Homo sapiens: one gene and its partner. The protein of the gene in region 2 interacts with the protein of the main gene of each other region in a pairwise test. Each region holds a gene or a part of one and is shown on either strand. Other genes may lie near its edges.

Region 1 (7,239 bases), on a different chromosome or scaffold from region 2:
CCCCGTGTGGATCCTCCGATGCAGAATGAGGGCAGAGCTACAGCTGAAGGTTTTCCCACAATCACTACATTCATAAGGTTTTTCCCCAGTGTGGATTCTCTGATGCTGAATAAGGTGTGAGCTCTGGCTGAAGGCCTTCCCACACTCATTACATTCATAGGGCTTTTCCCCAGTGTGGATTCTCTGATGTTGAATAAGGTCTGAAGTTCGATTAAAGCTCTTGCTACATTCATCACACTTATGGGGTCTGTCTCCCACGGGGAGTCTCTGATGTGAGATAAGGTTGGAATTCACAGTGAAGCTGTTCCCAAAATCATTATATTTCTCGCTTCTCTCTCCCCTGGGGGTTAGCTTCTCCTCAACTGTCACTTGACCAAAATCTGGCATTTTCCTGTTCAGTCTTTCTCCAGGGGAGTTCCCCAGCGGCCTTTTCAGACTGACTTCTCGTTCATAGGCTTCTTTAAACTTGAGACCCTGAGAAATATCCTTTTGAAATCTTCCCAGTAGGACCCCATGTGATCTTGTGTCTTCAGAAATTTCTTGATCATTTTCAGTCCTGGTCTCACGATCTGACACAATAAAAAATGCAAATGTCACTTGTTCCTTAGGGAAGAAAGAGTGAAAATCACAGGACAGGATCATTGTAACGAATACTTACAGTGCCAAAAGCACATGCCTACAAAGAGGCCTGCCCCACATGTGTGCGGCTAAGGCAAAATGAGACAGCCGGGCTAAGGAGACAGGGAAGGGGCAGGGCAGAGCAAAACCAAGGAGAACAGAGCTGGAAGTGGAAAGAAAGCTGAGTGTGTGTGGAGGGGAGGACGGATCAGGCAGAGAGGCAGGGAACCAACTTTAGAAGAGGAAGGTCATATTGCTTAATGAAGTGACAAAGCCTTTAGAGAGGTCAGGGCAGTGGATATAACTGGGGACACAGTGACTGCAAGAAGGGAGAGCAAGTACAGGACAGTTGGTGAGAAAAGGGGGGAAGGGTGAGGAGAGACAGCAGCAGCGCGGGAACAAGCAAGGGGGAGGATGCTAGTGGCTGCCATGGCCCCATAAGAAGAGCAATCATGGCTGTCGTCACGCCACAAATGCCAAGCCCATGGAAACGGCAAGACAACTGAGTCCGCCTCTGGGCCCTATGCATAAAAGGCTATGCTCGCACGTAAGGCTATGCAAAGAATCTCAGTGTCTGACGTCTCTGTTTTCACTCCTTTTGAGTTTCTAAAGCCAACTCTGGGCACAGAGGATAAATGTAAAGGGTCCAGAGAGTTTGCGTTTTTAGCTTAATTGATATTTTAAAAAGTAAAGACAGGGTAATGTGTGTTAGGGACGGGAACGGCTGTTTCTCCTTCACCTGAAGAGGTACCTCTTAGGACCTCTCTGCTCTCAGTTCCTTTGAAACCCAGGCCCCTTGGCTCTTCCTCTCATTCTAGCAGAGAGATGGTGGCAGGATTCAGAAATGGGAATTCTGCTCATGGGGAGAGACATGGGACAAGGAGGTTTATCTGCTCACCCTGAGAGTCCCAGAGCTCAATTCCAGACCCCAGATCTGCCGGGGACAGAAGGGAAATGTACAGGAAGGTCTCAAATGAGAGTTAGGAAGACGTCCTGGCTCTGCTCAGGAAAATGCCCACTAAGAGTGGGGTGAGAGACAAGGAATTCTACATCCTAAAAGTTGAGAAACTAATTTATTAATCTTTCTTTTTTTGTTTTTGTTTTTGAGACAAGGTCTCACTCTATCGCCCAGGATGGAGTGCAGTGGCGTGTTCTTGGCTAACTGCAACCTCCACCTCCCAGGTTCAAGCAATTCTCCTGCCTCAGCCTCCCAAGTAGCTGGGATTACAGGCACATGCCACCACCCCCAGCTAATTTTTTTTGTATTTTTAGTAGAGATGGCGTTTCAACATGTTGGCCAGGCTGGTCTCAAACTCCTGACCTCAGTATCTGCCCGCCTCAGTCTCCCAAAGTGCTGGGATTACAGGCATGAGCCACCGCGCCTGGCCTAATTTCTTAACCTTTCTAAGTTTCTACAGAGCAGCAGGGGCACTAGGTCCTGAACAAAGCAACAGGTCCCTAGAAGTTAGAGAAGGGGAGCAGAGAAGCAGAGAAGGAGAGGACAGAGACGTGGGCAAAGAGCAGCACCTCATGTGTTCAGGGATAATCCTTCGGAAAAGTCTCTGGATTATATATTAAGTCCTGAGAATAACACGGAAAAAGTATCAGATTTGGCCAGGCGCGGTGGCTCATGCCTGTAATCTCAGCACTTTGGGAGGCCGAGGCAGGTGGATCACCTGAGGTCAGGAGTTCGAGACCAGCCTGACCAACATGGAAAAACTCCGTCTCTACTAAAAATACAAAATTAGCTGGGTGTGGTGACGCATGCCTATCATCACAGCTACTCAGGAGGCTGTGGCAGGAGAATTGCTTGAACGCAGGACGCAGAGGTTGCGGTGAGCCGAGACCACGCTATTGCACTCCAGCCTGGCAACAAGAGTGAAACTCCATCTCAAAAAAAAAAGGTACCAGATTTGGAGTTAAAGACTGGGCCCCAAGTTTTGCCACTCATCAGCCCAACTGATGACCATGCATGCACAAGACATTGAGACCGCTACTCTCACCTCCACTTTATTTACTTATTTATTTTTTGAGACAGGGTCTGTGTCACCCAGGCTGGACTGCAGTAATGCCATCTCGGCTCACTGCAACCTCGGCTTCCCAGGCTCAAGTGATCCTCCAACCTCAGCCTCCCAAGTAGCTGGGACTACAGGCATGTGCCACCATGCCTGGCTAATTTTTTGGATATTTGGTAGAGACAGGGTCTCGCCATGTTGCCCAAGCTGGTCTTGAACTCTTGACCTCAAGTGATCCTCCTGCCTCAGCTTCTCAGAGTGTTGGGATTACAGGTGTGAGCCACCTCGCCTGGACTACTTTCACTTTCCTTACCTGTAAAATGAGGAATAATACTAGCTGCCTCAATTAATGTGTTACTGTGAAGATTAAATGAAAGAATATATATGAGAACTCTTTATAAGTTGCAGACTGCTGTATAAATGAGTTAAGATTATTGTTCTTACAGTTTCCTAAGACTAAGTCAATCCTTACCTAGGCCAGGTGCAGTGGCTCATGCCTATAATCCCAGCACTTTGGGAGGCCAAGACGGGTGGATCACTTGAGGTCAGGAGTTTGAGACCAGCCTGGCCAACATGGTGAAACCCCGTCTCTACTAAAACAAAAAAAAACAAAACAAATACAAAAATTAGCCTGGTGTGGTGGTGCGTGCCTGTAGTCCCAGCTACTTGGGAGGCAGAGGTGAGAACCTGGGAACACTTGAATCTGGGAGATGGATGTTGCACTGAGCAAAGATTGTGCCATTGCACCTCAAAAAAAAAATCTGCTGAAACAGCTCTTTTCAGTGACTAGATTGTTACTAGCAAACGAAGAAGCAAAGAAACACCAGCGAGTTTTGTTGACAAGGCATAACTCCTTACCCAGTGAGAACACATTCCCGTAATTCTCCAGCATCACATCTCTATAGAGGTCCCTCTGAGCAGGTTCCAAACGCTTCCACTCCTTCCGGATGAAGTACACAGCTACATCCTCAAAGGTTACCAGCTCCTGAAACAACACGTGCTGGCATGCAATTTCAGGGTGAGGAATGTGAATGGCGGCACCAAAAAAATCACTGAGGATGGGGTGAAAAATGCACATTTGGGAAGGGAGGAAGGGAGGACAGGGTGGAGGAAGAGAGACAGGAGTCCAAGATAGAAGGTGAGGGTCCATGATTCAGCAGGACAGAACCATGGGCCTGATGGAGGAGATCAGGGTTTAAAGCTCTGAATGGGATGTCATTGCACAGAAAATGGAAAGGAAAAGGATAAACGGAACCACAGCTCACCTGGGACTTGGCCTTTAGGAGCGCAGCCGCCAACATCTCATCCCCCAGGCTGTCCTTGTCGGAAAAGGCAGGAACTTTTGAAGGAAGAGCTGAAGGGCAATAAAAGGGCCCAGGAATGAGTCCATCTGCTCTGTGACCTCCCAACCTGCTGACTTCCCAACCCACAGAAAGCTCCCGGGGTCCTGGGACAACACAGGACCCTCTCTCTCACATTTCTAAGTTTGCTTCCTCTGCAGCTAGCTACAGTGTGTCCAACAAAGGCAAACTCAGAGCGAGTCCATCCTGCCTGAGCAGATGGCCACAGGCCTGGTCATTCTTAGTCTCCAGTCTGTCCCAGGTCCCCTCTTCTCTCCAGTCACTCTTCTCTCAATGAAACCGCCCAGTCCTATCTTAGTGATTACTGCATTCTTGTCCATTCACCCAAGCTTGGCCAGAAACATATGATCCCGCTCTTGCATGAAGTTCTATTTTTTTTTTTTTTGAGGTGGGTTTTGCTATGTTGCCCAGGCTGGTCTCAAACTCCTGGGCTCAAGTGATCCTCCTGCCTCAGCCTCCCAAATAGCTGGGATTACAGTCGTGTGCCACTGCACCCAGCATGAAGTTCTTAGACCAGAGAAAAACCAGCAGCTTCACCCCAGCCCTGACTGGAAACACAATGCCCACAGCTCCTTTCTCTCCACCCCAGATCAAATCTGTACACTAAAAATGTTCCCTGTTTCTGTGTTGAATCTCTTACCTTTTTCTGCAATTCTTTTTTTTTTTTCTTTTTGAGGTGGCGTCTCACTCTGTCACCCAGGCTGGAGTGCAGTGGCGTGATCTCGGCTCACTGCAACCTCCACCTCCCGGGTTCAAGCAATTCTCCTGCCTCAGCCTCTGGAGGAGCTGGGACTACAGGTGCGTGCCACCATGCCCGGCTAATTTTTTGTATTTTTAGTAGAGATGCGGTTTCACTGTGTTGGCCAAGATGGTCTCAATTTCCTGACCTTGTGATCTGCCCGCCTCAGCCTCCCTAAGTGCTGGGATTACAGAAGTGAGCCACCGCGCTCGGCCGCAAAGTATACTTTAGTGGCTTCCTATTCACTCTGTCTTTTTGTCTATGACCCATAAAATGATTCCGAAGCGCCTCCTCTAAAAGCATGCTCCTAAAAAGCACAAACTATGCCTATGAAGTCGGCTGCATAGAATGCCCGAGAAATGGAATGATTGACACGGTTTCATTAATCTCGCGTGAGGTACTCACAACCCCTCAAAACTGCCTCAGTGGCCAGGCGCGGTGGGTCATGCCTGTAATTTCAACACTTTGGGAGGCCAAGGTGGGCACTGAGGTCAGGAGTTTAAGACCAGCCTGACCAACATGGCAAAACCCCGTCTCTACAAAAATTAGCCGGGCATGGTGACGGGCGCCTGCAGTCCCAGCTACATGGGAGGCTGAGGCAGGAGAATCACTTGAACCCAGGAGGCGGAGGTTGCAGTGAGCCGAGATTGTGCCACTGCACTCTAGCCTGAGCAACAGAGCAAGACTCCATCTCAAAAAAAACAAAACAAAACAAAACAATCTGCCTCAATTATCAAACCTATCAAGCTGTCATTGATTACTGTTCGGTCAGCTTCCCCACTAGGCTGTGAGTTACTGAATGGCGAAGAGTGTGTCTTATTCACATCTGGATTCTAGTAGTTAGCCTAGTACCTGGTAAGTGAGCGATTTCAATGGATGATTGCAGAATGACTGAGTAAAAGAATGAATGAGTCCTTATTCCTCACCACTGTCAAGCAGGGCCTGAGGTTCCTGAGATACGAGATCAGCCTGAGTTTCCATGGAAGGGCAAGGTGCTCTCTGGTCTCCTGGGTGCAGACTCAGCGGGAAGCGGGTTTTAAAAGAGAATGAGGAAGCACTGCAGAAGCAAAAGTTCAAGGTTCAAAGATAATTCAAAAAAACCTCCTGAATACAGAAAGATGGGAGCTAGTATTTCAGTGAGTACCCAGGAACAGTGAGAAGAAATGTGGCAACTGGGACTAGTCTTTTATTTTCTTTTATTTTTTAATTTTTTTTTTCCTTTTTGTGGAGAACAGGGTCTCGCTATATTGCCCAGGCAGGTCTGGAACTCCTGGGCTCAAGCTATCCTCCCACCTGTTGCCTCCCTGAGAGCTGGGATTACAGGCGTGAGCCACCGCGCCCGGTATTTTTAAATTTTCTTTATTTTTTTTAAGACGGAATTTCACTCTTGTCACCCAGGCTGGAGTGCAATGGCGCAATCTCATCTCACTGCCACCTCTGCCTCCCGGGTTCAAGCGATTCTCCTGCCTTAGCCTCCCAAGTAGCTGGGATTACAGGCACGCACCACCATGCCTGGCTAATTTTTGTATTTTTAGTAGAGGTGGGATTTCACCATGTCAGCCAGGCTGGTCTCAAACTCCTGATCTCAGGTGATCCGCCCACCCCAGCCTCCCCAAGTGCTAGGATTACAGGTGTGAGCCACCATGCCCAGCCTCAGACTAGTCTTTTAGATCCTGGTAAATATACTCCCTGAAATGAGACTATCACAAGGACCACAAAAAGGGCCCAAGTTCCTCAACAATATCCCGCCTTTGGCTGCCCCCATCACTTTGAGTAATATTTATAACAAAATGCAGGAGCGGGTATATACATTCACTGGCATAAAAAGACTACTCCCAGGCTGGGCACGGTGGCTCATGCCTGTAATCCCAGCACTTTGGGAGGCTGAGGCAGGCAAATCACGAGGTCAGGAGTTCGAGACCAGCCTGGCCAGGATGATGAAACCCCATCTCTACTAAAAATACAAAAAATTAGCTGGGCATGGTGGTGTGTGCCTGTAATCCCAGCTACTCAGGAAGCTGAAGCAGGAGAATCACTTGATCCCAGGAGGTGGAGGTTGCAGTGAGCCGAGATCACGCCACTGCACTCCAGTCTGGGCAATAGACAGAGACTCTGCCTCAAAAAAAAAAAAAAAGAAAAAGAAAAGAAAAAATACAAAAATTAGCTGGGCATGGTGTTACATGCGCCTGTAATCCCAGCTACTTGGGAGGCTGAGGCAGGAGAATCGCTTGAACCCGGGAGGCAGAGGTGGCAGTGACCCAAGATCGCACCATTGTACTCCAGCCTGGGCAACAGTGAGACTCTGTCTCAAACAAAACAAAACAAAACAAAACAAACCAACCAACCCTGGATTTGATCTACCTCTCATTATCTCTTTACTCATTTGCTCACATAGCAAATGTTTGCTGAGGGCTAACTCTATTGCCACTCACAACTGCAAGGAGTAAAAAAATCGGGAATGCAAAAAGTATGTGCTTCATAATTACAGACTGTTACACTCACATAA
Region 2 (8,091 bases):
GATTGTTCTGAATGTTTAACTGCTTGTAGTTTCATTTCTATTTAAAAACTTATTTTTGCTAATTTGAAAGACTATTTCTTCTCTCATCTCAGAATCCTACATTGCTAGAGTCTGACATTTTTATGTCTGACACCCAGATTCTGTACTGCATTATAACTGTGTTATTTCTCCTACTGAACTGCAGGTTGCTTGAAAATGGGGAAGTATCTTATTTAATTTGTATCCCTATTCTTCCAGTCTTCAAAGTAGAAGATACTTAAGAAAGGTTTGTTGTATAATTATTTCTGCTTTTCTGGAGTTTCTGAGGGCTTCAGCAAAATATACTTCAAGTCTAACTGCTGTGTGGGACTGTCTTTCAGATATTATTTGCACTATACTCAATACATTTTGGATCACTCAAATTACTGATTTTGGTGGAAATATCCTTCTAAAGTAAAAATAAAATATAATTCCCCTTCATAAAACCTTCTGAAGGTTCCCTGTAACCTACTGGTCAATGTTCACAGCACTGTTCTACAGCCTTATTAATATGGCAACCCCACCCTGGTCCAACTCTACCAAGCCACCTGTAACTCAACTGTACACTGCTGCAGAATGCACCAGCTGCTTGATGAACTCCACTGCCTCTACCAGACACAGCTGAAATTCTCCTTCTTTTTGAAAGCCTTCCTATATTTGTTTTTTGTGAGGTTTTTTTGCTTCCTGCCTCACTATGCTGATAATTTCTAAAATACAAATTCCTCAAGGCAACACTCATCTTTTTATCCTCAGGTCAGGCAAGTAGCAGCTTACTAAGCGTTTAATGAATGTTTATTGAAAGAATTACTAAAGAATAATTCAGTAAATCTGCTGGTACTACATAAAACATTGGCCCACAATCAAAAGGCACAATTCTAGGATGTTTTTCATTACTACTAATGAATGGTGCATTTCTCTATTCTATCTCATCCCATAAACTCGTGAATTCAAGATAACTTGTACCTTCACTACTAGCTAACCATATCACCATTACCAAAGCCACAAAACAAACCCACATCGTATCAAAACCTCTTTGCGTCATGAGCAAATGGTGAAACCAGTAAGGCATATTCACAGCTATTGTAAAAGATATGGAAAAAATAACTTAAAAATCTTTGAAATCGATCCAATTTAAGCATGTTAAATGAATTAAAATCACACAATTTGGGGGCGGTGTCTTTTCATGCACCTAATTTCTCTAGGGGTATACTACATAAAAGGCACTCAAACGCCTACTTTATAAAACCGGTGTCACGGCCTGCTTTGGCCAAAAAGCAGACTGTCAAGTACTAGGAGATCCCAAGTATACAATTGGACACTGTGCTGGACTTGAGGTCTTTAGCAAACAATTTCAGCGTAACATTTTAGTTTTCTCATATATCTGCCTCATTATGTTTAGAACATAATGTGCTTTAACAAGTCTTGTCACAAGGCACAATGTGTTATGAGATCTCCACATTTCATCCTAGAATAACTAAGTCTTCACAGTTATCTTCAAGCTGCCTCACCCATGTTACGTAATCCATGAGCTTTTTATCTTCCCTGTACAGTTGGGGAAAGAGAAGGGAAGGAAGAGTACAAAATGACTTGGCCTAAGAGGTTCAGCCAGTCACTAAAAGAGCCTTCGTTTTAATTATCAGTTCCTAACCCTCTTCTCAAAGAACCGTTTTGTTTGAGAAACCTTCATTAACAGCAGGCAGAACAGAGTGTTAAATTAGCTATTAGCTTTCCTTACTTGTTTAGTGTGAATGAATAACCTAAGCTTCCTAAGCCTGTAGGTTGATAGTTTTAGGATAAGAGATCTGATGGATCAAGTTTTGCCGACTGGATCCAAATTCATAAATCTACCTCTAACTTCTAAATTTCAAAATAGCTTGACGTGAACTTTAAAGGCATTTCTTTCCTCTCCAAATTTCTAATTCTTTACAAATTTTATTCACTCTCCTAAATGAGTCAACTCATACCAACCTTTCTAGTTCAGGATCAAACTGTAGGATCACCAGAATTTTCTTCTACCCCACAGTAAGCCAAACCCCCATGAACCATGAAAAGGTCCATGACATCCATCACCCACAGCTAACTCTACACCTTGACTCTAATCTGAATTGTTAGAAAGCCCAGGAAGTTCAAGAAGCCTCCACCCTTACACTTCTAAATCACCTTCTTTTCTAATCCTCAACCTATTACAGCGTCCAGAAAAGAGAAATCTCAATTCTCTCAGATTCAAGAACTTTATCAGCGTTGCTAGTAATCGCAGTTTGGCATTTACAACTATGGGTCCTGAAACTGGGTAATAATCTAAAAATTCCTACATTATACGTGCAGACAGCAAATTAGTATATTCTATGTCCTGGGCCCAAGCGATATGCCTAACTGGGCAATCAGCATAGGCTCAAAAAATGTGCAGGGAGCTCACAATTCAGTTTACTGTCGTTGACTATAAAATTCTAAACCAAAGTATTTTCATGATAAAATTATAAACCAAAGTATTTTCACACATGCCTGCCTCTTGGATGATGTAAATTCTTCCCCTAGACTTTTTACTAGACCACTATCGGGGTTCTCTTCCACTGCAGCGGCCACCCAATAACTCGTTTTAAAGACTGCCTCTTGCGGCTGCACTAGCAAATCGCCAAACCCCGCATGCCCCACGGCCGCTGCTGAGACTCTGCAGCCCCAAATCGGCCATCCCCTCCTCCCCCACGTCCCCGCGCTGCTCGTCCCCCAACGCCGGGCGCCAACCTTGCTCCATCCCAGAGAGGGTTTGGGGCTCCCCGGGTCAGAGCGCTCCGCAGGCGCAGCTCCGCGAACGCCAGCGAGAGCGGTCCCGGGGCCAGCACCTACCTCCCACCTCCTCCTCCAGGAGCGGCCCGGGTCGACGCTCGCCCGCACCCTGCAACGGCCCCAACAGCCGCGCGGAGCCTCCCGCCGAACAACGGGGCGCTGAGCCAGGTGCCGGCTCTCACCTCCGCGCGCGCCCGCCCCTTGCCGGCGCCCACCCCCGCCCGCCCCTCCCTGGCGGGGCGCGTCACAATCCCCGACGCGAGGCGCTGCTGCTCACCGTCACGGCCCCCGGGAGCGGCGGGGAGTCACCGCTCGGCGTCCTAGCCCGGCTCCCGCAGCCCGAGGGCCAGCAGCGCCTCGCAGCGCCTCCCGCCCGCGGCCCCTCCTCCGCTGCGGGCTCCCGCCTTCCCCGCCCCTTGCAGCCGCCTCCCGGCCTCCGCAGGTTTCCGAGGTTCCCACCCCGCCCCCGCGCGCCGGCGCCGCAGGCCCCGCCGCCTCCCATTGGCTCCGCCAGTTGCTAGGCGATGAACAACCGTGGCCTGCATTGGTCGGGTGGGGGCCTCGGTAGTCTCCTCCTTACCTCCAAAAAAACCCGGAGAAAAAGAAGACCTTATCCCTGCGGTCCGCGCGCGCTGCGGGCGCAGCTGCGGCTGCGGCACCTGTTACGCCCAGTGATTCACCCGGCCGTTTTCTGCTCCCCGCCCCCTTCTGACGCCTGCAGCGTCCGGGGCCGGGGCTCTGTGGGGGCCGGGACTCTGCAGGGACCGGGGTCGTGGCTACTTTAGAGCACGTTTTCCGAGCCCCACTGAACCCCAACACCCAGCCTAGCAGCAAAAGTGAAGCTTCCAGGAGAGCCACGTGCGTTTGCCAAAGTGGAGAAATAAACTGCGGGCACCTAGAATTAGGTCAGGTCCAAGGAACGGGAGGTTCAAGCGTCGGGAGTCGTGGATGCAAACAATCCAGCCGGGAGAAAGTTATATGTAAAATTAGGGCGAAGAAATGGATCTGGGCAGAAGACCGCGGGCAAAGGAAAGACTAAGAAATAGCATTCGTGAACTCAGTTTATGCAAAAATGTCTTACACCCACTCGACAAAGTATGTGCGATGAAAATGTATGCCTGCTGCACCCGTGGCCAGGGTCAGGCTGTCTCCTCCCTGGTTTCATGGCAGCCTAAAATTCACTGGGGAAGAAAAGAAAAGAGGCCAGAGAAAGGAGATCAGATGGAGAAATCACAGGCATATAGGTTACACAAAGATGTTCTTTGATTTTTGTTTTGTTTAGTTTTGGTGAAGCCAAGGGATTTATTCAAAAGGCGAAAAACAGGTTTGGTGTTTTAAGGAGACTCCTGAGAGCACTTTGAAACCAAAACAGTATGAGTGAAGATGCTAACACTGAAAAACAAGAGCGGGAGGAATGTCCACCTCCCAGTTTGCATGCACGTATCCCCAATCCTGGATGAAAGATCAGGGCCAGAAGAAGCACGCCACGGTGACAACTTCAGGGCCCAACGAAATCCTCCTCTTTTCCTTTGGCCAAGCAATCAGAGGCCCGTCTAGCTGCTGTTGAGCCCAGGTGGCGTTACCATTAACAGTTACATTTTTAAAAGGTTTGAACCAAGCTTAGTTGAGCTCTGGGAAGTTTAGCTCTGACCTCAGCAACCCCGGGAAAGGAATAAGATCTGCCTGAATAAACCAGCGGTCTCAATCTTTTGGTCTCAAGACCGCTTTCCACTTGTAAAATTATTGAGAGCCCCAAGAACTTTTCTTTATGTTGGTTACAGCTATTAATATTAAAACAGAAATTTAAAAATTGCTATTTTTTAAAATAATAATGAATAAAAATAAAAATGTCAAATAGCGCATTTTAATTAAAAATAACTATTTTCAAAAAATTAGTTAAAAGAATGGTGTTACTTTAAAATTTTGCCCATATCTTTAATGTCTTGCTTAATAGAAGGCATTTGGATTTTCATATCTGTTTGTGCATTCGATCTGTTGTGCTATTTCAGGTAGCGTCTGGAAAACTCTACTGTGCACTCATAATGAGAGGGAAAAAGGCAAATAATATCTTAGTATTATAACAAAAATAGTTTTGACTTTGCAGACTCCCTGGAAGGGTCTTGGAAACTTGCCGCCCCAAGGTTCAGCAGATCTTTGAAAACCACTGGTCTAAACCTCTTTGTACTCTGTCCCTCTTTGTTAACCAATAACTGGTTAAGGGGCTAAAAATATGACCTAATTCTGCTCAGTCCATAATGGGGAGTGGGGGATGAGGAGCTTCAGGGGAAGGATTTTATCCTGACAGACTAAGGACAAGTTTTTTCCTTCTTGCCTTGGACATCCTCCAGTAAGCCAGACATGTTTGGAGCTGTGGCAGCATATTCTGCAACCACGAGAGAAAAGCAAGAAAAATACATGCGTACCTCGTTTTATACTTCAATTTATTGCACTTTACAGGCACTGTATTTTTTTTTAATAAAGGTTTGTTGCTCAACCCTGCATTGAGCAAGTCTAGTGGCACCATTTTTTCTAAGAGCATGTGTTCACTTGGTGTCTCTGTCACATTTCGGTAATTTTTGAAATATTTCAGACTTTTCCATTAAATATGTTACGGTGATCTGTGATGTCACTATTGTATTATTTTGGGGGTGCCGCAAACTGCACCCTTATAAGACAGCCAATTCAATGTATATGTTGACTGCTCCACTGACTGGCTGATCATCTCTCTCCCTCTCCTTGGGCCTCCCTACTCCCTAAGACACAGCAATATTAAAATTAGGCCAATAAATAACCCTACAATGGCCTCTAAGTGTTCAAATGAAGGGAAGAGTCACATATCTCTCACTTTAAATCAAACGCTAGAAATGATTAAGCTTAGTGAGGAAGGCATCTTGAAAGCTGAGATAGGCAGAAAGCTAGACCTATTGTTCCAGTTAGCCAAGTTATAAATGCACAGAAAAAGTTCTTGAAGGAAATTAAAAGTCCTCCTCCCTTGAACACAGGCATGAAAAGAAAGTGAAACTGCCTTATTGCTGATAAGTAGAAAGTTTGAGTGGTCTGGATAAGAGATCAAACCAGCCACAGCATTCCTTTAAGCAAAAGCCTATCCAGAGCAAGGCCCTAATTCTTCATTTCTATGAAGGCTGAGAGAAATGAGGAAGCTTCATTTAAAAAGTTTGAGGCTAGCAGAGTTTGGTTCATGAGGTTTAAGGAAAGAAGCCATCTCCGTCACATGAAAGTGCCAAGTGAAGCAGCAAGTGCCGCTGTAGAAGCTGCAGCAATTTATCTAGAAGATCTGATTGATGAAGGTGGCTACACTAAACAGATTTTCAGTGTAGACCAAAAGAAAGCCTTCTATTAGAAGAATATGCCACATAGAACTTTTCTAGCTAAAGAGGAGAAGTCCCTGCCTGGCTTCAAAGGACAGGCTGACTCTTGTTAGGGGCTAATGCAACTGCTGACTTTTTATTTTTATTTTTTATTTTTTGACACAGGGTCTCAATGTGTTGCTCAGGCTGAAGTGCAGTGGTGCGATCACGGCTCACTGCAGCCTCAAGTGATCCTCAAGCAATCCTCCCACCTTAGCCTCCCAAGTAGCTGGGGCTACAGGCACACACCACCATGCCCAGCTAATTTTTGTATTTTTTGTAGAGACAGGGTTTTACCATGTTGCCCAGGCTGGTCTCAAACTCCTGAGCTCAAATGCTCCACCTCCCTCAGCCTCCCAAAGTGCTGTAAGCCACTATGCCCGGCTCCAGCTACTGACTTTAAGTTGGAGGTAATGCTCATTTGCCATTCCAAAGATCCTAGGGCCCTTAAGAAATATCTAAATTGACTTTGCCTGTGTTCTATCAATGGAACAACAAGGCCTGGCTGACAGCACATCTGTTCACAGCATGGTTAGTGAATATTTTAAGTCCACTGTTGAGACCTATGACTCAGAAAAAAAGATTACTTTCAAAATCTCACTGCTCATTAATAATGCACCTGGTTACCCAAGAGCTTTGCCTGCTAACACAAGATCTATTCTGCAGCCCATGGATAAAGGAGTAATTTTGGCTTTTAAGTCTTATTTGAGAAATACATTTCATAAGGCTGTATCTTCCATAGATAGTGATTCCTCTGATGGAACTGGGCAAAGTAAATTGAAAACCTGGAAAGGATTCACCATTCTAGATGCCATTGAGAACATTCATGGGCACGGAAGGAGGTCAAAATATATCAACATTAAGAGGAGTTTGGAAGAAGTTGATTAAAACCCTCATATATGACTTTGAGGCGTTCAAGACTTCAGTGGAAGAAGTAACTGGAGATGTGGTAGACATAGCAATAAAACTAGAACTAGAAGTGGAGCCTGAAGATGTGACTGAATTGCTTCAATCTCAGGATAAAACTGGAACAGATGAAGAGCTACTTCTTATGGATGAACAAAGAAAGTGGTATCTTGAGGGGGAATCTACTCCTGGTGAAGATGCTGTGAACGTTGTTCAAATGACAACAAAGGATTTAGAATATTCCATAAACTTAAACTGATAAGCAGCAGGGTTTCAGAAGATTAACTCCAATTTTGAAAGAAGCTCTACTGTGGGTAAAATGCTGTCAGACAACGTTGCATGATACAAAAATATTTTGTGAAAGGAAGAGTCACTCGATGTGGCAAACTTCATTGCATTATTTTAAGAAGTTGCCACAGCCACCCCAACCCTCCGCAGCTACCATCCTGATCAGTCAGCAGCCATCAACATCAAGGCAAGACCCTCCACTAGCAAAAAGATTATAACTTGCTGAAGGCTTCAAGATTTTTTTAGATTGTTAGCATTTTTTAGCAATGAAGTATTTTTCAATTAAAATATGTACCTTGTTTTTAAAGACATAATGCTATTGCATACTAATAGACAATAGTATAGTATAAAATAACTTTTATATGGACCGGGAAGCCAAAATACTATGTGACATCCTTTATTGTGATATTTGCTTCATTGCTGTGGTCTGGAACCGAACCTGCACTACCTCTAAGGTGTGCCTGTACAGAAAAGGCAACCCCAAGCCCAGATGTTACTGAGTGGCTACATTAGCCTACCTTGGCTCTGTATATCTCTACACTGCATATCATGTGAGACAGTAAATGGCCTATTGCTTAAGCCATTGTAGGCTTAAGCCTAAGAACATTTTTAGCCCAGGGCTAAAAGAAATTGGGCTTGATAGAACTTTACTATGGTAAGTGTATTAGGCCATTCTTGCATTGCTGTAAAGACTGGGTAGTTTATGAAGAAAAGCGGTTGAATTGAC

Evidence for each region.
Region 1: the proteins of SSX2IP (region 2) and ZNF3 interact in binary tests that used the Homo sapiens proteins (3 or more experiments, as listed by UniProt).

What each region holds. Positions count from the first base shown.
Region 1 is NC_000007.14:100,071,644-100,078,882, forward strand, and holds part of ZNF3 (zinc finger protein 3), read right to left. Parts: intron 5,791-7,239; 5' UTR 5,715-5,790; coding exon 5,660-5,714; exon of another isoform or gene 5,586-5,659; intron 5,580-5,585; exon of another isoform or gene 4,635-5,579; intron 3,988-4,634; coding exon 3,899-3,987; exon of another isoform or gene 3,784-3,898; coding exon of another isoform or gene 3,619-3,783; coding exon 3,492-3,618; intron 570-3,491; coding exon 1-569. UniProt on the Homo sapiens protein: Involved in cell differentiation and/or proliferation.
Region 2 is NC_000001.11:84,687,292-84,695,382, forward strand, and holds the start of SSX2IP (afadin- and alpha-actinin-binding protein), read right to left. Parts: upstream 3,171-8,091; 5' UTR 3,080-3,170; exon of another isoform or gene 2,761-3,079; intron 1-2,760. UniProt on the Homo sapiens protein: Belongs to an adhesion system, which plays a role in the organization of homotypic, interneuronal and heterotypic cell-cell adherens junctions (AJs).